Linked DNA regions of Homo sapiens: all the other regions are linked to region 2. Evidence: fine-mapped expression QTL. A gene starts in region 2. Each other region holds a variant in brackets. All regions are shown on one strand. Distances are between the middles of the regions.

Region 1 (8,185 bases), 34 kb after region 2:
AAACCCCCTCTCTTGACAAAAAATTCAAAAATTTTGCCTGGGTGTGGTGGTACACGCCTGTAGTCCCAGCTGCTCAGAAAGCTGAGGTGGGACAATCACCTGAGCCTCGAGAGACTGAGGCTGCAATGAGTGATGATTGCACCACTGCACTCAAGCCTGTGCGATAGAGTCAAACTCTCGGGGGGAGAAAACAAAAGCATTTTTGATAAATGTAAAACTATTTTCTGGGCCCTTTTCTTGCGTTTTTAAAATTCATTATTCTGGCCAGGTGCAGGGGCTCATGCCTGTAATCCCAGCACTTTGGGAGGCTGAGGTGGGCGGATCATCTGAGGTCGGGAGTTTGAGACCATTCTGACCAACATGGAGAAACCCCATCTCTACTGAAAATACAAAATTAGCCGGGTGTGGTGGCACATGCCTGTAATCCCAGCTACTCGGGAGGCTGAGGCAGGAGAATTGTTTGAACCCGGGAGGCGGAGGTTGCAGTGAGCCAAGATCGCGCCATCGTGTTCCAGCGGGGGCAACAAGAGCGAAACTCCGTCTCAAAAAAAAAAAAAATCATTATCCTTAAGAGGTGATTAGGAAAGATTGAATTCTTTATATGGAAATAAACTTGAGCTTTAAATTCTTAATTTTTTTTCCAAAATGGAAATAGCTGTGTTGTTTTAAGAAACTTTATGCACACAGAACATTTTAATTTTTTAAAAACAATTGCGGTGGTTTTTACTGTATCTTTTTATATTTTATTTCAGGTGTCGCACCTCCTTCTTTTGTAGCCATTAAGGCAGGAACAACACTGTATCAACTTACAACAGCAGGAGAAGCTGTTTCCTGGAACTCAATATTTATTCTGATGATCTTGGCTGTTCTTTCTATTCTGCCAGCCATCTTCCAAAAAAAACTAAAGCAGAAATTTGAGTAAAAATAATCATCTGATTTTTAGTTTTGCTGTCATCACCATCTCAGGATTAACAGGTGCATCCATTTATGTTTTAAAATCACCTCTTCAGTAATTAAACAAGGAATTTGTAAAATAAAATTTCCTATCAGATAGTTAAAGTAATACATTTAAGTGACAAGGGGAGAAGAAAGTAAAAATGGAAATTGGTATACTGTGAAAAGTGCTATCAATAGTTAAGGTAGACATCTTAGACATCTTATAAATTATTATACCAAGGGTAGCTGTAGATAATAGTAGTGTGGTAGGAAATTGTTGATCCAGCTAATTCATTCAATTTAATTGAATATTTTTTATCTTTAATAACTAAAATAGATATTTTTAAATTCTAGATTTTTTAAAGTAGTGTTGCAGGTTTTGTTAATGTTAGGCTTTTTTCAGAGCATAAACTGGAAAACTTAAAAAGAGATTTACATTTTCTTCCTCTTTTTTTTTTTTTTTTTTTTTCTGTTTTGAGACGGAGTCTAGCTCTGCCGCCCAGGCTGGAGTGCAGTGGCGCGATCTCCACTCACTGCAAGCTCCACCTCCTGGGTTCACGCCATTCTCCTGTCTCAGCCTCCTGAGTAGCTGGGACTACAGGCGCCCGCCACCATGCCCAGCTAATTTTTTTGTATTTTTAGTAGAGACGGGGTTTCACCGTGTTAGCCAGGATGGTCTCGATCTCCTGACCTCGTGATCTGCCCGCCTTGGCCTCCCAAAGTGCTGGGATTACAGGCGTGAGCCACCGCGCCTGGCCCATTTTCTTCCTCTTTTGAGGTAATGGATTTGTTTGGAGATGGCATGTTAGTAGACGACTGAATATGGAAAGGATATCAAGTTATCTATTTTGTTAATTTTATTTTTGTTTTTTATCATCTAGATTTTTATCATGGATTAGTCTGAAATTTAAAGTTCTGGCCAGTCGGTTTTCTTTCATCTTGTAGTTTTTACAGTATTTCCACTGTGCATATGCAAAATGGGTATTACATAACTGTATCATATTTGGTATTGATAATTTTTTTTTTTTTTGAGACGGAGTCTTGCTGTTGCCCAGGCTGGAGTGGAGTGCGTGGTGTGATCTCGGCTCACTGCAAACTCCGCCTCCTGGGTTCAAGCGATTCTCCTGGCCCAGCCTCCTGAGTAGCTGGGATTACAGGTGTGTGCCACCGTGCCCAGCTAATTTTTGTGTTTTTAGTAGAGACGGGGTTTCACCATGTTGGCCGGGCTGGTCTTGAACTCCTGACCTCAGGCTATATGCCCACTTCCACCTCCCAAAGTGCTGGGATTACAGGCATGAGCCACTGTGCCCAGCCTGGTATTGATAATTTATATTCAGATAATTTGTTATGGCTCTTTAATATCCCACAAGGGGCTCTAAAAAGCAAACATTCAAGAGTATGTAGTTTTTAGACATTAAGTTAATTATTTTAAACAGTGACAGCAAAACACAAGTGATTAAATATAGTTTATTTGTTCCAATGACTAAATTTTACCTCATTTATTAATCTGGTCATTAAGGAATATATTTAATAATATTATGTAATTATTCTTTTTATGCATGATACACCTAGAAAAATGCCTTTTGTTTCTATTGATGGCTTTGTTGTTTGGAGCTACTTTTGATTACTTATTGCAGTTTCCCAATTTAGTCTTTACTTTATCTAACTCACAAAGTAAAATTAACTGATCACATGGCAACTACTGTATTTAAATAGTTCTGGAAAAATGAAAGTGCTTTTTGCTGCTTGGTAAATGGGTAATGCCCTTGATTCCTTGACTGTAGGACATAGCTGATCTAAAGTACTCTGTCAGTTTTACCTTCACCCATGACTGTTATTAGTTGTCAAAGTTGAAAAGTACTTTAGCTGTGAGAAATCCTTGTATGTTTTTATTATAAGAGGTATAATCATCCTCAAAGCCTGTTTTTATTACATGATGTGGACTGATTATTTTTTCTATCACAGTGTTAACAGATGGATTTTATTGTAAATACAAAGAAAACATATTGATTATTGTAGTATTCTTATGTCACCTGGCCTTTTGCGTGAGATTATTTATTATTTCTAGCAAGGCTTTCTTCCTTTCTTATTGCCCAGAGACTGACTGATACATCTTTTGTTATTTTTACACATAAATTAAACATAGCCTTTTTGGACAAATTCACTAAATATTAATGTATAAAATGTAATTGAGTAAATTTTTATCAGAATTTTAAAAATAAAAGAGCTTAGACTCAGTAGAACTCAGTAGAAGCTTCACTATTTACTCCAGCGTGTGTAAATTGTACTTACTCTATTCTCAGAGTATATTTACTGTCCTTACCATTGATTCTTTCCCTTTGCTAATTTTTTTTTTTGTTAATGGTAGCTGCGACTTTAGGTGGGGTATATTT[T/C]CTTCTCCTAAGAGAATAGACAGTTTTTCCAGATTCATCATCATTGACTGTCAAGAAAGGACCCTTCAGCAAGGCTGTACCCTCAATGCAGTTGATGGCCTGTCTTCACGGATTTACAGACTTGGCCTGATGCCCATGTAAATTCAAGCTTTGGCTTGTGGTAACAACCACAAGAAGACAAGCATCTGTGGTGCGGAGGCAAGCAGGCTAACTAGGAGTTGACAAGCTAAGAAAGTGAAACTGTTCTTTCTTAGTTAACTGTCTTTCTCTGGAGCTCTGTTATTTTGAGTATAATATTTCCATGACACTTAGTAAATGCAAGCTAAAATGTAATAATAATAAATTGTATTGGAGAAACCTAAATGTCACATTTGGGATTTATTTCATGGAAGTACTTACATTAAAAAACTCTGGCCGAGCAAGGTGGCTCACGCCTGTAATCCCAGCACTTTGGAAGGTCGAAGCAGGTGGATCACCTGCAGTCAGGAGTTCAAGACCAGCCTGGCCATCACAGTGAAACCCCGTCTCTACTAAACATATGAAAAATTAGCCAGGTGTGGTGGCACACGCCTATAGTCCTAGCTACTTGGGAGGCTGAGGCAGAAGAATTGCTTGAACCCAGAAGGTGGAGGTTGCCATGAGATGAAATTGTGCCACTGCATTCCAGCCTGGGCAACAGAGCCAGACTCTGTCTCAAAAAACTAAAAACAAACTCTTCGTTGAATAAAAGTATATTCTTAAATTTCGATGTACATTTTCACCACTAAGAACAATGAAATGGCCGGGCACGGTAGCTCACACCTGTAATCCTAGCACTTCCAGAGGCCAAGGTGGGTGGATCACCTGAGGTCAGGAGTTCGAGACCAGCCTGGCCAACATGGAGAAACCCCGTCTCTACTAAAAATAAAAAATTAGTTGGGTGTGGTGGTGTGCACCTGTAATCCCAGCTACTTGGGAGGCTGAGGCAGGAGAGTCGCTTGAACGCGGGAGGCAGAGGTTGTAGTGAGCCAACATCACACCAGTGTACTACAGCCTGGGTGACAAAGTGAGACTCCATCTCAAAACAGGCCAGGCGCGGTGGCTCACGGCTGTAATCCCAGCACTTTGGGAGGCCGAGGCGGGTGGAGACAAGGTCAGGAGATTGAGACCATCCTGGCTAACATGGTGAAACCCCGTCTCTACTAAAAATACAAAAAATTAGCCCGGTGTGGTGGCGGCCGCCTGTAGTCCCAGCTACTAGGGAGGCTGAGGCAGGAGAATGGCATGAACCCGGGAGGCGGAGCTTGTAGTGAGCCGAGATGGCGCCACTGCACTCCAGCCTGGGCGAGAGTACGAGACTGTATCAAAAAAAAAAAAACAACAAAATATTTAAAAATTGTTTTTTTGAGGTGGAGTGTCTCTCTGTCGCCCAGGCTGGAGTGCAGTGGCGCCATCTCGGCTTATTGCAGACTCCGCCTCCCGGGTTCACGCCATTCTCCTGCCTCAGCCTCCCGAGGAGCTGGGACTCGCGCCTGCCACCTTGCCCGGCTGGTTTTTCGCACTTTTAGTAGAGACGGGGTTTCATCGTGTTAGCCAGGATCGTCTCGATCTCCTGATTTCGTGATCCGCCCGCCTCGGCCTCTCAAAGTCCTGGGATTACAGGCGTGAGCCACGGTGCCTGGCTAAAATATTTAAAACTTGTAATTGTTGGCTTTTGAGGTTTTTTTTTTTTTTTTTGGAGACAGAGTTTCGCTTTCGTTGCCCAGGCTGGAGTGCAACGGTGCGATCTTGGCTCACTGCAACCTCTGCCTCCCAGGTTCAAGCGATTCTCCTGCCTCAGCCTCCGGAGTAGTTGGGATTACAGGCACGTGCCACCCACCACACTCAGCTAATTTTGTATTTTTAATAGAAATGGGGTTTCTCCACGTTGGTCAGACTGAACTCCCGACCTCAGGTGATTCACCCTCCTAGGCCTCCCAAAGTGTTGGGATTACAGGCGTGAGCCACCAAGCCCAGCCGGCTTTTGAAGATTCTAAAGCAATTTAAATTGTTTAGGTAAGGCCGGGCACAGTGGCTCAGGACTGTAATCCCAGCACTTTTGGAGGCCAAGATGGGCAGATTACCTGAGGTCAGGAGTTTGAGACCAGCCTGGCCAACATGGTGAAACCCTGTCTCTACTAAAAATAACAAAAATTAGCTGGACGTGGTGGCTCACGCCTGTAGTCCCAACTACTCAGGAGGCTGAGGCAGGAGAATTGCTTGAAACCAGGAGGCGGAGTTTGCAGTGAGCACCACTGCACTCCAGCCTGGGCAACAGTGTGAGACCTTGTCGCTAAATAAATAGTTGAGGTAAGTAAATATTTCCTTTTTTTTTTTTTTTTGAGACGGAGTTTCGCTCTCATTGCCCAGGCTGGAGTGCAATGGCGTGATCTCGGCTCACCGCAACCTCCGCCTCCCAGGTTCAAGCAATTCTCCTGCCTCAGCCTCCCGAGTAGCTGGGATTACAGGCATGCACCACCACGCCTGGCTAATTTTGTATTTTTATAGTAGAGACGGGGTTTCTCCATGTTGAGGCTGGTCACGAACTCCGGACCTCAGGTGATCCGCCCGCCTCAGCCTCCCAAAGTGCTGGGATTACAGGCGTGAGCCACCGCGCCTGGCCAAGTAAATATTTCTAGTACATACAATGAGTTGTTTATGAAGGAATCTTTTTAAAGTTCTCTGGCTTTTTGAAAATGTGTATAATCAAAAGGGCTGAAGCTTTCCTGATAATCATTCGGTGGTCATAGTTAAGATGTTTAGAAGATACATCTCATTGCAGTTTTCAGTATTCTCATTATTATTTTTCTTTATCTGGGACAAACTTAGTCTGGGTGACTTGAGGCAGGATATTGCTTAAGCTCTCATCCTCATTTTTCTCATCTAGAATAAAGAGGTCTAAGGTCCAGGATCCTTACAGCTCAGACATGATAAGATTCTCTGAAATTAATGAAAGTTTAATAAGCTGCCCCCAATTCAGAATATTAAATTAAGCATACCTTGCTTTGTATAGCTTGTTTTACATCTTACAATATACTTTCACACACATTTAAGTAAATTAACTTTTTTATTTTTTTGAGACAGAGTCTTGCTTTGTCATCTAGTCTGGAGTGCAGTGGCGTGATCTCGGCTCACTGCAACCTCTGCCTCCTGGGTTCAACCAATTCTCCTGCCTCAGCCTCCTGAGTAGCTGGGATTACAGGTGCCCGCCATTGCGCCCAGCTAATTTTGTATTTTTGGTAGAGACAGGGTTTCCCCATGTTGGCCAGACTGGTCTTGAACTCCTGACCTCGTGATCCACCCCAACTCGGCCTCCCAAAGTGCTGGGATTACAGGCATGAGCCACCGCGCCCAGCTAATTTTGTGTTTTTAGTAGAGACAGAGTTTCACTATGTCGGTCAGGCTGGTCTGGAACTCCTGACCTCAGGTGATCCACCCGCCTCGGCCTCCCAAAGTTCTGGCATTACAGGCATGAGCCACGGCGCCCAGTAGCTTTTCTGTTTAGTAGAGAAATGTTGGATTTGATAAATGAGGATGGAAGACAAGAAAAGAATGAAGTAGAGGCACAGGAGGAAGCCATGTGGTGAGACAGCACAATGAATGTTGACTTTCTGGTTCTGAGAGTCTTGTGTTCTGCTATTTGTTAGCAGCACGCTGGGCAACATAGCCCTACTGTTAGCTCATATGGTGGTTTTGGATGAAGTAGAAAAGGATGTCGCTGGGCACGGTGGCTCATGCCTGCAATCTCAGCACTTTGGGAGGCCAAGGCGGATTGCCTGAGCTCAGGAGTTCAAAACCACCCTGGGCAACATGGTGAAACTCCATTTCTACTAAAAATACAAATAATAATAATAATAATACCAGGGTATGGTGGAGCGCTCCTGTAATCCCAGCTACTTGGGAGGCTGAGGTGAGAGAATCGCTTGAGCCCGACAGGCCGAGGTTGCAGTGAGCCAAGATCGCACCACTGTACTCTGGCCTGGGAGACAGAACGAGACTCCATCTCAAGAAAAGAAAAAGAAGATGCCCCTTTCTTTTTTCTTTGTAGAGATGGCAGTGGGGGTGCTGGGTCTCACTGCATTGCCAAGGCTGGTCTTGAAATTCTGGGCTGAAGCAATCCTCACAGCTAGGCCTTCCAAAGTGCTGGGACTACAGGCACGCACCACTGCGCCTGGCCAGGTGCCTCTTTCTTAAGATATTTTACTGCCATCTGTTGGAAAACTGTCGTCAACCATATAAATTAATAATGAGTACAATGATGGTGTCTCATGGTACCATGTACACAAATATGAGCAGCAGCTCTGCCTGTCAGCTGCAGGGCCCCTGGGGCCAGGTTACATATGCTGATAACTCACAACTTGAGTTTAGCAAACCTTGAGGGTGGCAGGCAGGAGTTGAGCCAGCAGGCCAAGGAGTGGCCCAGCTATATCACCCCAGGGTCCCAGCCTCAAAGGTGGTCAGTTGAGTTGCTTCTCACTTTATTGTCTTGCCCATGGCAGCCCAGGTAGGTTGTTTTGGTGGGGGCTTTTGGCAGTTCCAACGTTTGTCAAAACCTACTACATGGGAGTGGTGTTTTTTCTAGGTGAAGTTTGTATAGGCTTACCAAAAAAAAAATCTATGTATTTTACATTTCACGGGAATTATATTACCTTTTATGGTCCACATATCTGTATTAATTACAAGATCTGGGACCAGGAGCAGTGGCTCACACCTGTAATTCCAGCGCTTTGGGAGGTCAAGGCAAGCAGATTGCTAGAGGCCCAAAGTTACAGACCAGCCTGACCAACATAGCAAAACCCCGTCTCCACTAAAAATTTAAAAATTAGGCCAGGCGTGGT
Region 2 (8,185 bases):
AAAAATACAAAATTAGCCGGGCGTGGTAGCACATGTCTGTAATCCCAGCTACTTGGGAGGCTGAGGCAGGAAAATCGCTTGAACTGGGAGGCGGAGGTTTCCGCGAGCCAAGATCATGCCATTGCACTCCAGCGTGGCAATAAGAGTGAAACTCCATCTCAAAAAAAAAAAAAATTTTGTCTGGAATGACTATGTATATATTCATGTAATTAAAGTAATAAAAGTTTAGAGATAGTTCTTCTCATACATAATCTTATATCTGGTATCTTCTTTTTGTCTCCAGTACACTATGCTAGGTCAGGCCAGGATTATTGCAGTAATCTCCTAACTTCTCTTTCTGCTGTTGATTTGGCACACTTCCATAAGGCGGTCAGAATAAGCTTTGAAAATTCAAATCTTTTTTTTGAGACGGAGTTTCACACTTGTTGCCCTGGCTGGAGTGCAATGGCACGATCCCAGCTCACTGGAACCTCTACCTCCCTGGTTCAAGCGATTCTCCTACCTCAGCCTCCCGGGTAGCTGGGATTACAGGCGCCCGCTGCCACGCCCAGCTTTTTTTTTTTTTTTTTTTTTTTTTTTTTTTTTTTTGAGATGGAGTCCTGCTCTGTCACCCAGGCTGGAGTGCAGTGTCGCGATCTCGGCTCAGTGCAAGCTCTGCCTCCTGGGTTCACACCATTCTCCTGCCTCAGCCTCCTGAGTAGCTGGGATTACAGGCGCCTGCCACCACGCCCGGATAATTCTTTGTATTTTTAGTAGAGACGGGGTTTCACCATATTAGCCAGGATGGTCTTGATCTCCCCACCTCGTGATCCGCCCACCTCGGCCTCCCAAAGTGCTGGGATTACAGGCGTGAGCCACCACACCCGGCCACACCCAGCTAATTTTTTGTACTTTTAGTAGAGACGGGTTTTCAAACTGGTCTTGAACTCCTGACCTCAGGTGATCCAACCATCTCAGCCTCCCAAAGTGCTGGGATTACAGGGGTGAGCCAATGTGCCCGGCCAAAAATACAAATCTTACTAAGTCCCTCTCTGGTTAAATATCTTTGAGGATTAAGTTCAAACTTTTAGCAGTTTGTGATAAGGTCCTGGTCTCATATCTTTCGTAGCATTTCTTTCCATTCTCCCACCCTTTGCTTGAAGCTTTTTTTCTAATATAAGCAGTAGCTTCTAGCCTTTGCAAAAGCTATTTTCTCTGCTTTCAACTTTGTTAATTCCTATTCATCCTCTAAAAATCAGTTTTAATCCTGCTTCCTGGGAGACTTTACAGCCCCACTGTAATTTAGATATTCCTCTCTTCTGCTATTGCAATCTGCGCACCCCTCAGTCACTCTTATCACACTGCACTGAGGTTGTTCATCTTTTCCTAATTTTTTGGAATTTCCTAAGTTTTGGAGTTGGCTTTCCCACTGCGCACTCAGATGTCTTAAGCACATTTAATTTTTTCTTCTGTGTGTTGATAATTCATATTCTTTGCCCATTTTTCTGTTGAGTTGTGCTTTCCTTACTGATTTGTAGTAATTCTTATGTGTCAAATACTTCTCAGTGTTTGTTTTTAGTTTTTGTTGTACTTCAATTTTTAATGTTTGCATAGTAAAATATATAAAATGTTTTCTTTTTTTTTTTTTTGACTTGAACTCCCGACCTCAAGGTGATCCGCCCACCTTGGTCTCCCAAAGTGCTGAAATTACAGGTGTAAGCCATGGCACCTGGCCCATAAATATAATTTCCTAAGATTGAAAATTTATTCGGCTGGGCACCATCTCAAAAAAAAAAATTATTCAACAAATTCATTGAATGGCCACTTAGGTATTGGCACTCTGTCAGCTACCGGGGATACAATGGTGATCAAAAAGACAAAGCCCAGCTGGGAGCCATAGCATGGAGCCTGTAGTCCCAGCTACTCAGAGGGCTGATGCTTGAGGATCCCTTGAGTCCAGAAGTTCAGATCCAGCCTGGACAATATAGTGAGATTCCCATCACTTAAAAAAACAAAAAACAAAAAGACAAAGCCCCTGCCTTAAAGCTTATATTCTAAAGGTGGAGGCAGACAATAAACAAGTAAACAAATAGTTCACAGAATTAATTGCTTTTAATGACTATGAAGGAAATAAAATGGGAGCCAGAAGTAGGCAAAGGATGTGTACATAAAACAGTTCAATTGAATGGGTTTCCCATAATTTACTTAACCATTTTTATTTAGTGTTGGATTTTTATATTGCTTTTAGTTTTTCACTGTTATACTAATACAGAGGAATTATTTATGTTTATTTTCATGGAATAATTTCCTACAAATGTAATTACTGAATAGAAACAATCAGGATTTTTTTTTTTTTTTTTTGGGACGGAGTCTTGCTTTGTGGTCTATGCTGGAGTGCAGCGGTGCAATTTCTCACCGCAACCTCAGCCTCCGGGGTTCAAGCGATTCTCCTGACTCACACTCTCGAGTAGCTGGGATTACAAGCCATCATGTCCAGCTCATTTTTGTATTTTTAGCAGAGACGGGGTCTCATCTCACCATTTTGGCCAGTCTGGCCTCACACTCCTGGTCTCAAATGATCCGCCCGCCTTGGCCTCCCAAAGTGTTGGGATTACAGGCTTGAGCCACCGCGACCGGCCTCTAAGTTGCTTTCAAGAGGTAACCACGGTGAGTAAGCTGAATGTGCTCTGAGGGGTAGAAGCAGAAAAAGTTACCTGTGGAAAAGGCATGTTTCCGCTTAGCTTAGGGATAAGCTAAATGTAGAGCTGACTTGGGTTTAGTAGTAAGGGGCAGCAGCTAATGCAAAACCGTTAGCTTTGGGAACAGGACAACCTGGATTCTAAGCCCATTTTTGCCATCCTGTGATCTTCACAGGTTGTACGTAGCCCTCTCTGAGCCTTAGTTTCCTGAAATTCAGGTAGGTTTTGCTCAACCTTTGTATTTCCCACCATCTTTTAGATCAAGCACTCTCTGGCGCCTCCAAATTGAAGACAGCAGCTGCGGAATTGATGTAATGGGCTGAATCAGCCTCAGCCGCGAAATGCCGACTAATCACAGGCACCTCCGGCGGCCTGGACAAAAGGTTTGAAGTCCCTGGGACCGCACTTCCGGGTAATTAAGGCTACGCTTTAGACGCCAGGGCCAGCGAGTCGCAGCCGGGTGACTCGAGTGCCGCGACTGCGCATGCTCTCGCCCCAGCGCCCGGCGGCCACCTCTTTCCCGCGGGCGGGCCGGGGCGGGGCACTGAAGGGGGCGGTCCAGGACCCTGACTTGTCTCGCGGTTACTGGGCCGGCGCGAGCACGCGAGGCTCGGGGGCGGCACGGGGCGGGGTTTAGCCTGTGGTGGGCGCTGCGGGTGTTTGCAGGAGGTTGCAGTACTCGCTGGGCTGAGGTCGTCTCGGGTGAGGAGGTCGCGCCGGAAGTGGCTCTAGCCGTGGCGCTTCGGCGTAGTAAGGAGCCTGCAACAGAGTTTTGTTGTTTAGGGGGCGCGGCACCGCACCGCTCCCTTCACCTTGCAGCAGCCATGGCGAAAGGCAGAGTCGCCGAACGATCGCAGTTGGGCGCTCACCACACGACCCCCGTGGGGGACGGGGCAGCGGGGACGCGGGGTCTCGCGGCGCCTGGCAGCAGAGACCACCAGAAGGGTGAGTGGGCCCGGGGAGCAGAGCTGGGGGTGGCCCGAGGCTTCTGTGTGTCGGGTGGGGAAAAGGACCCCCGCTATTCTCGGAGAGTCGCGGGGAAAGAGGGGGGCCTGCTGGCGCCGCGGCGGGAGCAGAGACCGTGGGGGAGTTGGGCTTGGGCGCTCGCGCAGCACAAGGCCGGACGCCGAGTAGGTGCGTTGTAAATGCTGTTTGAGTAGAATTCATTTAAAAGAAGGGATGACACTGGCTTGTTGACGCTCAGGTAGATTGTAAGGTTGATGATAACGACGCTAGGCAGAGCTGGAAGGAGCTGTACTGTGGCATTCGCTGCGTTGTTTTTACAGATGAAGAAACTGAGGCCCAGTGTGGGTATATGACTTATAAAGTCATAAAGCCAGATCAGTGAAGTAGTAGTTAGGAGCGAGGACTTAATACTTCCAGGTGGCAGTACACCTGGGCTTGAGTCCCTGCCCTACTGTTTACTTGGAACCTTGGACTTGGTAACTTTCAAAAAAAGCTCAGTGTCTGAACTGTGAAATGGGGATAATAATAATATCTACTTAATAGGTGGTGCGTGGGTTAAACGAAATAATTCACGTAAAAGATTTAGAGCAATGCTTGGATATGAAGTGGGGGCTAAATAAATATTAGCAATTACTTAGTTACAGCTAAGGTCACTCATTCTAAAGTTTATTTCCCCACTACATCATCCTGACATTTCTCACGGCTTTATTTTTGGTTTTTGTTTTCTCTTTATTCCTACTGCCTCTATAATTGCAGAATCTCACGGCTTTAAATATTGTTTTAAGGAAAAAACTGTACGTAGAAACTAAATACTTTGATTCCGTGTTGGCCTGGAATCGTTCTTTAAATGATTTTAAAGCTCATAAACTTAAAGTGATCCTAACAAGTTTGTCTGTAGCTCACATAGGTGTGTTCCACCACCAGTGATGGCTAGGAGAACTTCTAAGAGTATGTAGTAGAAAATGTTAATGTATTTTCAAATAATTTAAAATGTCTCCAACAGTCTAATTTGGCTCTGTCAGCCTTATGTTTTTGGGTATTTTTCCAGCTTATATACACTGGATCCAGGTGACTTCATATAATTTCAAAAACTGAGAAATGAATCGTTGTTAATGTATAAATCAGCTCTGAATAAAAGAAAGATTGTTTTGAAGACTCTACTACTGAGGGTGACAATATTCCAAGGTCTGGGTTTCCTGAAAAAGTGTTCCAGATAGGGCATCCCTAAAAATTGACATCTCATTTGAGGTAGCAGCCAGTTGTATTCATGATTTTTACCTAAAGCTATTCAAAAAATAAAACCTTGAAACTTCCAAAGTGCTCTTACTTTTTAATCTTATTTTATCATTACAACAAAACATTCAACACAATTATTCTTTTTTTTTTTTTTTTTTTTGAGACGGAGTCTCGGTCTGTCACCCAGGCTGGAGTGCAGTGGCGCAATCTTGGCTCACTGCAAGCTCCGCCTCCTGGGTTCACGCCATTCTCCTGCCTCAGCCTCCCGAGTAGCTGGGACTACAGGCGCCCACCACCACGCCGGGCTAATTTTTGTATTTTTAGTAGAGATGGGGTTTCACCTTGTTAGCCAGGATGGTCTCGATCTCCTGACCTGTTGATCCGCCCGCCTCGGCCTCCCAAAGTGCTGGGATTACAGGCGTGAGCCACCACGCCTGGCCTACAATTATTCTTATGATGCTGTCCCATGACATCTATAGATCACAAATCTATAGGAAGACAGGGAAGAGATGTGAAGGCGTGCCTTCACTTCATGATGAAGTAAGGCCTGTTTTTAGTGACTTGAGACAAGGCCTCGCTGTGTCACCTATGCTGGAGTGCAGTGGCATGATCATAGCTTGCTGCAGCCTCAGCTACCTGGGCTCATGCGATCTTCCCACCTCAGCCCCCTCAAATAGCTGACTACAGGTGTGTGCCACCATGCTCAGCTAATTATTTGTTTTTTGTAGAGAAGGGGCCAGGGTGTCTTGAAGTCCTGGGCTCAAGCGTCTTCCTGCCTTGGCCTCCCCAAATGCTGGAATTACAGGCATGAGCCATTGTGCTTTGCCAGATAAGTAAGGTTTGGATAAGTAAAGAGAAGGGAAGGGTATTCCAGGCTAGGAGAAAGAGAGTAGTAGGGTTGAAGGTTAGTGTGAAACTTTTATGTGTGTGGGTAGGGAGATTAATTTGTCAGGAGCAGAGGGTTTCTGTTGGGTGGTAGTAGGCGATGAGGTTGGCCTGTTCAGGATGTGTCAGAATGTTCCTGTAAATTCCATGATACTTGGAAATGAATTTGTATTCTATTAAGTGACACATATATAACTTTGACAAATAAGTAGTTATCATCATATGTATGTTTGAACTGTTTTACATGCTATCTGCAATGTTTGGTACATTTAGTGGATTCCTTGCCATTACTCTGGCCTCTAGTCTCAGAGCTAAGCCTAGTAGACTGTGGACCACTTTGACTACTTGAGTAAGGCAGAGGTAACACGGAAAGTCTAATTTTTGCATGATGAAGATGAGAGAGCAGACAGGAGGTGAAACTAGTTAAGAAGCTCTTGAGAATGCATCAAGCCCAGGCAGCAGTGGAAAGGCTGGAGGACACACCTAAACATGTGGAATCCCAGTGCCAGGCAGCCAGGGCCAAATCCATATCCACCCAACATTGGGTGCCCTGGAGGTTCCAATCCTGCCCACTCACCACCTATCAACCCACCCTTTCCCCCAGGCCCCTGTCCTCCTCCCCCAGGAGCTCCGCAAGGCAATTCAGCTTTCCCCCCAGGTTGGCCCCCTCATCCTGTGCCACAGCCAGGGTATCCAGGATGCCAATCCTCGGGTCCCTACCCTCCTCCATACCCACCGTCTGCTCCTGGAATGCCTCCTGTGAGTCCCTTGGCTCCTGGCATGGTTGGACCAGCAGTGATAGTGGGCAAGAAGATACAGAAGAAAATGAAGAAAGCTCATAAAAAGATGCACAAGCATAGCAAGCATTCCTCCTCCTCTTCCAGCAGTGATTCTGACTGAATACAGGCCCTGGGTCCTTCCCTCAAGTCTCACCAGTTCTGCTCTCCTATCAAGCTTCAGATGCCATGTTGTATTGGGGGAAAGTAGCCCTTGTGCTCCCCACACCCTACCCCCGCCTGAGCTTCACCCTGCTGTTGAGCCCTGAGTGGCTAGGGAAAATGGGAAGAGAATTGGCATGGCCTGGCCATCTTGTTGTTGCTTGGATAGATCATATAGCTAATGAGTTTAGCAGGGGAGCTGTTTTTTGAAGATGATGAACTAAATGTTGAAGACAAGTTTGAGATCTGTAAAATGTGATTTTTTACTTCTGCTTATAATACTCATGATTGGGGAGGATTGTGGAAATTTAATTATGATGAAAAACCTCTATCTTTTTTGTAATGTTGGCATACTTGGGGAATTTAGTGGAAAATACATTCCCCAGCAGGCCTTTTGTTGGTTGCACTAACTGCAAGGTTGCTGGGAAGTAGAGTCTGTTTGGTCGATGAGCTTTGACTGCCATTTTGGAACCTTACCTCTCCTCCTTAGCCCAGTATGCTATCTCAGGTCCTATTCTTGTTCTCCAGCTCTCAGTCCAAATAAAGTTATTTCTCCTGGTTAAAAAAAAAAAAAAAAAAAAAAAAGGGCTCTTAACCTAATCGGTTTGAAGGTGACTGGACTAGAGTACATAACTTTTTTGGTGGTGTTTGCCCCGACCTATGTATTTACTAGCAAGTTCTCCATTTTAACTTAAGAGAGCTGGACTATGTTTTTCAATATATAAGTCATGACCCTTGTGAGGGGTGTGAAATCAATTTGATGGATAATCAATAATAAGCATTTTTTTAAAAAAAATGGAATAGAAGAGAAAATATCAGTGCTTTGGGATTAAATGCTGGTTTTTTTTTGTTTAATCTTTCCTTGAGTTATATAGATTTTGTGTATACCGGGTCATGTACATTACTTAGGCTGACATGGTGGCTCATGCCTGTAATCCCAGCACTTTGGGAGGCCGAGGCGGGCGGAACATGAGGTCAGGAGTTCAAGACCAGCCTGACTAACATGAAGAAGCCCTGTCTCTACTAAAAATACAAAAATTAGCTGGGCATGGTGGTGCACACCTGTAATCCCAGCTACTTGGGAGGCTGAGGCAGGAGAATCACTTGAACCCAGGAGGTGGAGTTTGCAGTGAGCCAAGATAGCGCCACTGCACTCCAGTCTGGGTGATAGAGTGAGACTCCATCTCAAAAAAAAATAATAATAATAATAATACATTACTTGGAACACAATCAAAAAAGATTGAAAAACACTGTCTCAAAGTTGATTTTATTGCTTCTAGAAAACAATATTTTTTTTTGTTCTTTTGTTTTTTTTTTTGAGATGGAGTCTTGCTCTGTCACCCAGGCTGGAGTGCAGTGGTGCGATCTTGGCTCACTTGCAACCTCCCCTTCCCGGGTTCACGCCATTCTCCTGCCTCAGCCTCCCAAGTAGCTGGGACTACAGGCACCCACCACCACGCCTGGCTAATTTTTTGTATTTTT
Region 3 (8,185 bases), 23 kb after region 2:
GGCTGGAGGCACAATCTCTGGTCACTGCAACCTCCACCTCCTAGGTTCAAGCGATTCTCCAGTCTCAGCCTCCCAAGTAGCTGGGATTGCAGGCGCCTGCCGCCATACTTGGTTAATTTTTGTATTTTCAGTAGAGACGGAGTTTCACCATGTTGGCCAGGGTCGTCTGGAACCCCTGACCTCAGGTGATCTGCCCATCTCAGCCTCCCAAAGTGCTGGGATTACAGGTGAGAGCCACTGTGCCCGGCTTTTTTTTTTTTTTTTTTTTTTTTTTTTTTTTTGAGACAGGTTCTCCCCCTGTCACCCAGGCTGGAGTGCAGTGGCATGATCATGGCTCACTGCAGCCTCAGCCTCCTGGGCTCAAGTGATCCTCCCACCTCAGCCTCCCGAGTAGCTGGAACCACAGGCACACCCAGTTAAATTTGGGATTTATTTGTAGATGCCAGGTTTTGCTATGTTGTCTGGGCTGGTGTTGAACTCCTGAGCTCCTCAGCCTCCCAAAGTGCTGGGATTTCAGTCATGAGCCGCCACGCCTGACAACACTGGGATATTATATAGCTATTTAAAAAGAATCAGAAGTAGCCAGGTATGGTGGCTCATGCCTGCAACACCAGCACTTTGGGAGCCCGAGGCGGGTGAATCACGTGAGGTCAGGGGTTCAGACCAGCCTGGCCAACATAGTGAAACGCCATCTTTACTAAAAATACAAAAATTAGCTGGGCGTGGTGATTGCATGCCTGTAATCCCAACTACTCAGGAGGCTGAGGCAGGAGGATCACCTGAACCCAGGAGGTGGAGGTTGCAGTGAGCTGAGATCGTGCCACTGCACTCCAGCCTTGGTGACAGCAAGATTCCATCCCCAAAAAATAAAAATAACAAAAATAAAAAGAATCAGAAGTATCCATATGTTGTTGAGGTATTAACTCACAATATACAGATAAGTGAAAGAACAAAGGGCAAAATAGTACACAAATATGCTGTGTTTTATCTAAGAAGGGGATAATATGAGTACACTCATATACATAAGTATCTTGTTATATTTTTCTTAAAAAACTAATTGGCCGGGTGTAGTGGCTCATTCCTGTAATCCCAGCACTTTGGGAGGCTTCAGCAGGAGGATTGCGTGAGGCCAGTGGTTCGAGACTGGCTTGGGCAATGTAGCTAGACCCAGTTTCTACGAGAAATACAAAAATTAGCTGGATGTCTTGGTACATGCCTGTAGTCCTAGCTACTTGGGAGGCTGAGGTGGGAAGATCACCTGAGCCCAGGGAAGTTGAGGCTACAGCGAAGCATTTAGCCTCTGCACTCCAGCCTAGGTGACAGTGAGACTGTATCTCAAATAAATAAACCAGTAAAAATGTTTACCTGTAGGGAGAGAGATAAAATGGTAGGACTGAAACTTTTCTTAGCGTAGGTTTGACTTGAGAACCAAGTAAATGTTTTACATAATTACAAAATCAAAATGAAAAAAGAGAATAGCAGGAATCTTAAGAATCAAAAGCAACCTCACACTCATTAGGATGGCTATCATGAAAATAACAAGTGTTGGCAAGGATGTGGAGAAATTGGAACTCTTGAGCACTGTTGGTGGGAATGCAAAATGATGCAGCTACTATGGAAAATAGTATGGCAGTTCCTCAAAAATTAAGAATAGTATTATCAGGGCCGGGTGTGGTGGCTCACACCTATAATCCCAGCACTTTGGGAGACCGAGGCAGGCTGATCACCTGAGTTTGGGAGTTCAAGACCAGCCTGACCAACATGAAGAAATCCCGTCTCTTCATGTATTTTTTTGTAGCGATGGGATTTCATCATGTTGCCCAGGCTGGTCTCGAACTGGAACTCTTGGGCTCAAGTGATCCTCCCACCTCAGCCTCCCAAGGTGCTGGGATTACAGGTGTGAGTCACCAGGCCTAGCCAAAAATCTTAAAACTGTTTTTAGTCATCATATTGTTAGTAGTAATAATGTTGTAAAATATTTAAATATGTGGAAACGTTTTAGATTATTAATACTAATGCATAGTATATATTTTATACATTTACTTTATGTTTCATAGTATATAAAGCACAAATAGGCAACTATGTTGGTGTTATCAAGAACCAAGATTTTTCAGTGTAAGAGAAGAGAAATCTAAACAAAGTTAAGCTCAAGTCACATTCCCATTTAAAAGGAAGCATAGTTTTGACTACTAGTATAAGATAAAGGATAGAACATAAACTACCCTAAGTATCCAATAGGCAAAATTCAATAAATGGTAAATTCTACAAATGATCTGGTTTCTTCAGTAAATTGAAAGAAAGAAAAAATAAAGACCCTATGCTTAAGTGATCCTTTGAGCAAATACTTTGTGTGGACTTCTAGATTCTGATCAGACTAGTCTTTAGGACAATAAGGAATTATAGTTAATTTCTTGAAGTCTGACAATGGTATCATATTTATGTTAAAAAGAAAAGGAGGCCAGGCACGGTGGCTAACACCTATAATTCCAGTACTTTGGGAGGCCGAGGCAGGTGGATCACGAGGTCTGGAGTTCAAGACCAACCTGACCAAGATGGTGAAACCCTGTCTCTACTAAAAATACAAAAATTAGCCAGTTATGGTGGCAGGCGTCTGTGATTCCAACTACTTGGGAGGCTGAGGCAGAGAATTGCTTGAACCTGGGATGCGGAGAATGCAGTGAGCTGAGATCACGCCACTGCCCTCCAGCCTGGACGACAGAGCGAGACTCCTACCACAAAAACGAAAGGAAAAAAAAAGGAATTGGCCGGGCGTGGTGGCCACACCTGTAATCCCAGCACTTTGGGAGGCCAAGCGGGGTGGATCACGAGATCGGGAGATGGAGACTATCCTGGCCAACATGGTGAAACCTGTCTGTACTAAAAATAAAAAAAATTAGCTGGGCGCGATGGCACACGCTTGTAATCCAAGCTACTCGGGAGGCTGAGGCAGGAGAATCGCTTGAACCTGGGAGGCAGGGGTTGCAGTGAGCCAAGATCATGCCACTGCACTCCAGCCTGGCGACAGAGCGAGACTCAGTCTCAAAAAAAAATTTATTTTTATTATTATTATAATTTTTTTGAGATGGGAGTCTCACTCTGTTTCCCAGGCTGGAGTGTAGCGACGCGATCTCGGCCCACTGCAACCTCCGCTGCCCGAGTTCAAGCAATTCTCCTGCTTCAGCTTGCCAAGTAGCTGAGATTACAGGCACCTG[C/T]CACTGCGCCCGGCTAATTTTTTGTATTCTTTGAACTCCTGACCTCATGATCCACCTGCCTTGGCCTCCCAAAGTGTTGGGATTTACAGGTATGAGCCACCGCGCCCAGCCTTATTTTTATTTTTATTTTTTTTGAGACAGAGTCTCACTCTATTTCCCAGGCCAGAGGTCAGTGGCATGATCTCGGCTCACTACAACGTCTGCCCTCTGGGTTCAAGAGATTCTCGTTTCCCAGCCTCCTGAGTACCTGGCATTACAGGCATGAGCCACTGTGACTGGCCAATTTTTGTATTTTTATTAAAGACAGGGTTTCATCGTGTTGGCCAGGCTGTTCTTCAACTCCTAGTCTCAAGTGATCCACCCTCAGCTGCCTAAAGTATTGGGATTACAGGCGGGAGCCACGGTGCCCAGCCTGAAATATGTTAATATAGGGCATCATAACACTAGTTTCTCTACTTTGTTTTTTTTTCCCCAATTTCAGCTGTAATTTTAGGTTTCCTTTTCAGAGAAGTAGGAATTGCACCAAATTTTGGGAAAGGAAAAAATACAGTTGCGTTAAACAACAAAAACAACAAAACACTTCCTGGGAACTTGTCCTCATTTATTTCTGCTTCTCTCAATTTCCTCAAGGGAAAATTTCCATTTATCTCCTTTCATCCTTTGGAGTCTTGCTTTCTTTTCTTTCTTTTTTTTTTTTATTATTATACTTTAAGTTCTGGGGTACATGTGCACAGCGTGCAGGTTTGTTACATACGTATATGTGTGCCACGTTGGTTTGCTGTACCCATCAACTTGTCATTTACATTGAGTATTTCTACATTTACATATGTGTGAAACTATCCATAATATGATGTTTTGTTTTGTTTTGTTTTTGAGATGGAGTCTTGCTCTGTTGCCAGGCTGGCTTGCAGTGGCGAGATCTCGGCTCACTGCAATCTCCTGCTTCCTGGGTTCAAGCGATTCCCCTGCCTTGGCTTCCCGAGTAGCTGGGACTACAGGTGCCCACCACCACGCCCGGCTAGTTTTTTGTATTTTAGTAGAGACGGTTTCACCATGTTGGCCAGGATGGTCTCGATCTCCTGACTTTGTGATCCGCCTGCCTCAGACTCCCTAAGTGCTGGGATTACAGGCATGAGCCACCCCACCCGGTCCATATAGTACAATCTTAACCCAAAAAGTGTGTGTGTTTGTGTGTGTGTGTGTGTGTGTGTTTTGTTTTTGACAGAGACATGTAGGAGACAGGTGGAAAATTTGAGGCTGATGAACCAAAGAGAATTTCGAGTTTTTAGTACTATATGTGGTTGATACTTGAAGCCATGGAAATTGCCAAATTTATCAAAGAAAAGGGATTGTGTGGCCAACAGAATGTTAGAGAAATTTCAAGAGTTGAGGGCAAAGAGAAAAATCTAGAGAAGAAATTACCTGTAATGTAGAAGAAAAAGTACAGTTCACTGAAGCCATGTTTCATGCAGGATGAAGTCTAATCCTATGCAGGGATCACTGAAAGGTGACTATTGAGAAAAAGTTATTATTGGCTGTGAGGAAGTTTCAATAGCATAGTGGAATAGTAAAGCAGGTCACAGGGAACGAGGAGAGAATCTCCTCTGAGGAAGTGAAGATGAGCGGTAGCTGGATAGGATACCCTGGTTGAGGTTGTTTTTTAAGTTATAGACAACTGAGTAGTTTTGTAGAGGAGGCATCCTGTGAAAGAGAACAGAGTTGAAGGTGAAAAAACCCAGGAGGAAGGAGGAGGAGATTGAAATGAGAACATGAGTAAAATGGGAACTAGAGAAAAAGGAATAGTTAATGAGTGAGGATAGATGGAGAGATGTTGAGGGAATTCACTTTGACTTGTGAGTAAATCATATTAGAGGGGAAAAAGGTTCAGATCCAAACTGGGAACGACAGGAAAGTAAAAAAAAAAAAAAATCTATTTTAAAAACAAGATTTGTGGCCCGGGTGTAGTCGCTCATATCTGTAACCTCAACACTTTGGGAGTCCATTGTGGGAGGATCGTTTGAGCCCAGGAGTTCAAGACTAGCCTGGGCAACTCAGCCAGACCTCATCTCTACAAATAATAAAAATTGGTGTGGTGACACACGTCCGTGATCCCAACTACTTGCAAGGCTGAAGTGGGAGAATTGCTTGAGCTTGGGCATTTGAGGCTGCAGTGAGCCATGAGTGCGCCACTGCGTTCCAGCCTGGGTGACAAAGCAAGACCCCTTCTCAAATAAGATTTGTGACTTTTACTATATTTTGTAATTTCTATTCTTATTTTTCTTATTTTCTTTTATTCTCTTGTAGTTCCTATTCCTTTAAAATGAGTAGTGAATTTAGGTAAACCTTCATAGTTAAATTAGAAATAATTGTATGTACATGATTTCCCTGAAAACATTTGGGAGTAAAATAAAATGTATTAGAGAAGCACTAAAAGATTACGGAAGACCTTTTCTTTTTTCTTTTGTTCCTCCCCCAAAGTGCCCGGTTCCTCTCTATCTAGAACATACGGTTTTTTGTCTTGGAAACCTTTTAGTAGCACACACTTACTAGTATTTATGATACTGTTTAGTAAATGGTCAACTTAGAGGCTAGACCTTTGGATATAATCTCATTGTATGATAATTTTTGTATTTATACTTTTTTCCTGAAATGTTACATTTGTCTTTTAAAATTCTACTTAATTATATTCTAATCCTTAACTTAAAAGTTACCAGCTTGCAAACATTTGCTATTCCAGGCTCTATATTTCTCAGTATACTCTCAGGGTTTCTTTATCCCTTTCCACTAGCCTTATTTCTTGTTTGTTTGGTAAGTATGAAAAAATAAAATTGGGAGACTGAAAAAACAATAGAATGATGAGGATGATGATGATACTTTAACCCTACTAGTCTATGTAAGCATAAACTCATTAATTGAAGAGGAGTTAATGTTAAAGTCCCTCCACAAGGAGGTGTTATAATTTGTTTTTCCCCCAGAACAGACCAATTATAGACTTAGTTGCATTTATAAGCTATGTTTTAGCTTTTCTTTCCTATTGGATTTTGTAACTGCGACAGTCCAAGGAGTGTTGGTGAGCACAATGAGTTAAGTCCCAGAGCCAGAGGTGGTGTTTTCAAGCTTAGGAACTGGGGGGGTCGGGGGTAGGGTCGGGGGGAGGTGGAAATTGGCTCCTGAAATTTTATTCTTAGGCTAAAGCCTAGCATTAATTATTTGGATATAGTCACTAGGTGTAATCACAAGTGCCAGTTTGTTTTAGCTGATCTCATTTGAGGTACATTTTGGTCTGAGAAAGTACTAGATCATCTCTGCACAAGAGATGTCATGCAGAGTACCCTCCCCACCTCTGAAAGAAGTAAATTAATTGAGCTTTTTACTCAGGTGAATAAATCAATGTGAGTAAGACGGAAAAATACAAAACGCTTATGGCTTCTTTTGTTTTCCAGTGTTCTGGACTTGGTGCCTCTTTCTGTTATATGCTTTCCTATTTAGTTGGGAGACCAGTTGTATACAAATACCTAACAGAGAAAGCAGTAAAATGGTCACAGCAGGTAAACATGTATTTTTAAATTATTTGATGTAACTCTTTGTTAATTGGAAGGTCTGTGTTTAGTCCCTACATGAATTAACTACATGTATTAACCCAACATAAATTAATTCCTAAGTTAACTCAAGTAATAAGAATTATCTTCTGACCAAATAAAAATGGGTGGTAGGCAAATATGAATGTTAATAATTTCAAATACAAATGTTTCAGACCTGTGATGGTAATTTTAATTCTTTATCTTAGTAAATTTAATCAGCAGAGAAGTCAGTGTGAATATAAAGGCATCCACATAATTAGATACCTATCTGTTTTATGTTAATGCAGTATTGTGTGCATCTGTTATGGAAACACTTGTATCAGCCAACTCCCAGTGCATTTTTTTCTTTTCTTTTTTTGAGACGGAGTCTTACTCTGTCACCCAGGCTGGAGTGCAGTGGCATGACCTCGGCTCACTGCAACCTCTGCCTCCTCGGTTCAAGCATTTCTCCTGCCTGCCTCAGCCTCCCAAGTAGCTGGGATTATAGGTACATGCCACCACGCCTGGCTAATTTTTTGTATTTTTAGTAGAGACAGGGTTTTACCATGTTGGCCAGGCTGGTCTCGAACTCCAGACCTCAGGTGACCCACCTGCCTCAACCTCCCAAAGTGCTGGGATTATAGGCATGAGTCACCACTGGCCTTTTTTGATGATTTCTTTTCTTTTTTGAGTCAGAGTTTCGCTCTTGTTGCCCAAGCTGAAGTGCAGTGGCGTGATCTTGGCTCATTGCAACCTCTGCCTCCCGGGTTCAAGCGATTCTCCTGCCTCAGCCTCCCAAGTAGCTAGGATTTCAGGCACATGCCACCATGCCCGGCTAATTTTTTGTATTTTTAGTAGAAACGGGTTTCACCATGTTAGCCAGGCTGTTCTCGAACTCCTGACCTCAGGTGATCCGCCTGCCTCAGCCTCCCAAAGTGCTGGGATTACAGGCATGAACCACCTCGCCAGCCTGATCATTTCTATTGGGTATACTCTGAAGTATCAGGAATGAGAATTTGAAATAAGGTGTTTATATTAAGCAACTTATTTTGAAGTTGTCCTCATCTGATGCTAATTCTTTTCTTTCTTATGACAGGTTGAACGTCATAGAGAACATCTCATTAACTACATTATATTTTTGAGAATAACACCATTTCTGCCTAATTGGTTTATTAATATCACATCTCCTGTGATAAACGTGCCATTGAAAGTTTTTTTTATTGGTACTTTTCTAGGTAAGCCCTCTGGTTCTTGCTGTGTATGAGCTCACTGTGTACATATCTAACAGTGTCCAGCTGGGCTAGATTACATGCATGCTCTCTGCAGATTATGCCAGCACCATCTAGAATTCTTGGGCACAAAGCCTGGCTGTATAAATAGATGCTCAGAAGTGTTTGTTGAATTGTGTTGATT

What was found.
Region 1: its variant is fine-mapped to the expression of TMEM41B in whole blood (INTERVAL, PIP 0.99).
Region 3: its variant is fine-mapped to the expression of TMEM41B in whole blood (INTERVAL, PIP 0.97).

What each region holds. Positions count from the first base shown.
Region 1 is chr11:9,276,161-9,284,345 of GRCh38, reverse strand. It overlaps TMEM41B (transmembrane protein 41B), which reads left to right. Exons shown (of 7, transcript NM_015012.4): 7 at 753-3,692. The coding sequence ends at 922. Among named protein-coding and RNA genes, the nearest start is that of TRL-CAA5-1, 5.0 kb to the right of the region's middle. The variant T/C (reference allele first, on the strand shown) is at 3,330.
Region 2 is chr11:9,309,759-9,317,943 of GRCh38, reverse strand. It overlaps TMEM41B (transmembrane protein 41B), which reads left to right and starts at 3,351. Exons shown (of 7, transcript NM_015012.4): 1 at 3,351-3,623. The coding sequence starts at 3,503. It also overlaps the pseudogene PRR13P2. RefSeq lists a silencer at 3,012-3,361 and enhancers at 3,127-3,642, 3,643-4,160.
Region 3 is chr11:9,286,277-9,294,461 of GRCh38, reverse strand. It overlaps TMEM41B (transmembrane protein 41B), which reads left to right. Exons shown (of 7, transcript NM_015012.4): 4 at 5,927-6,020; 5 at 6,656-6,760; 6 at 7,869-8,007. Among named protein-coding and RNA genes, the nearest start is that of TRL-CAA5-1, 15 kb to the right of the region's middle. The variant C/T (reference allele first, on the strand shown) is at 3,213.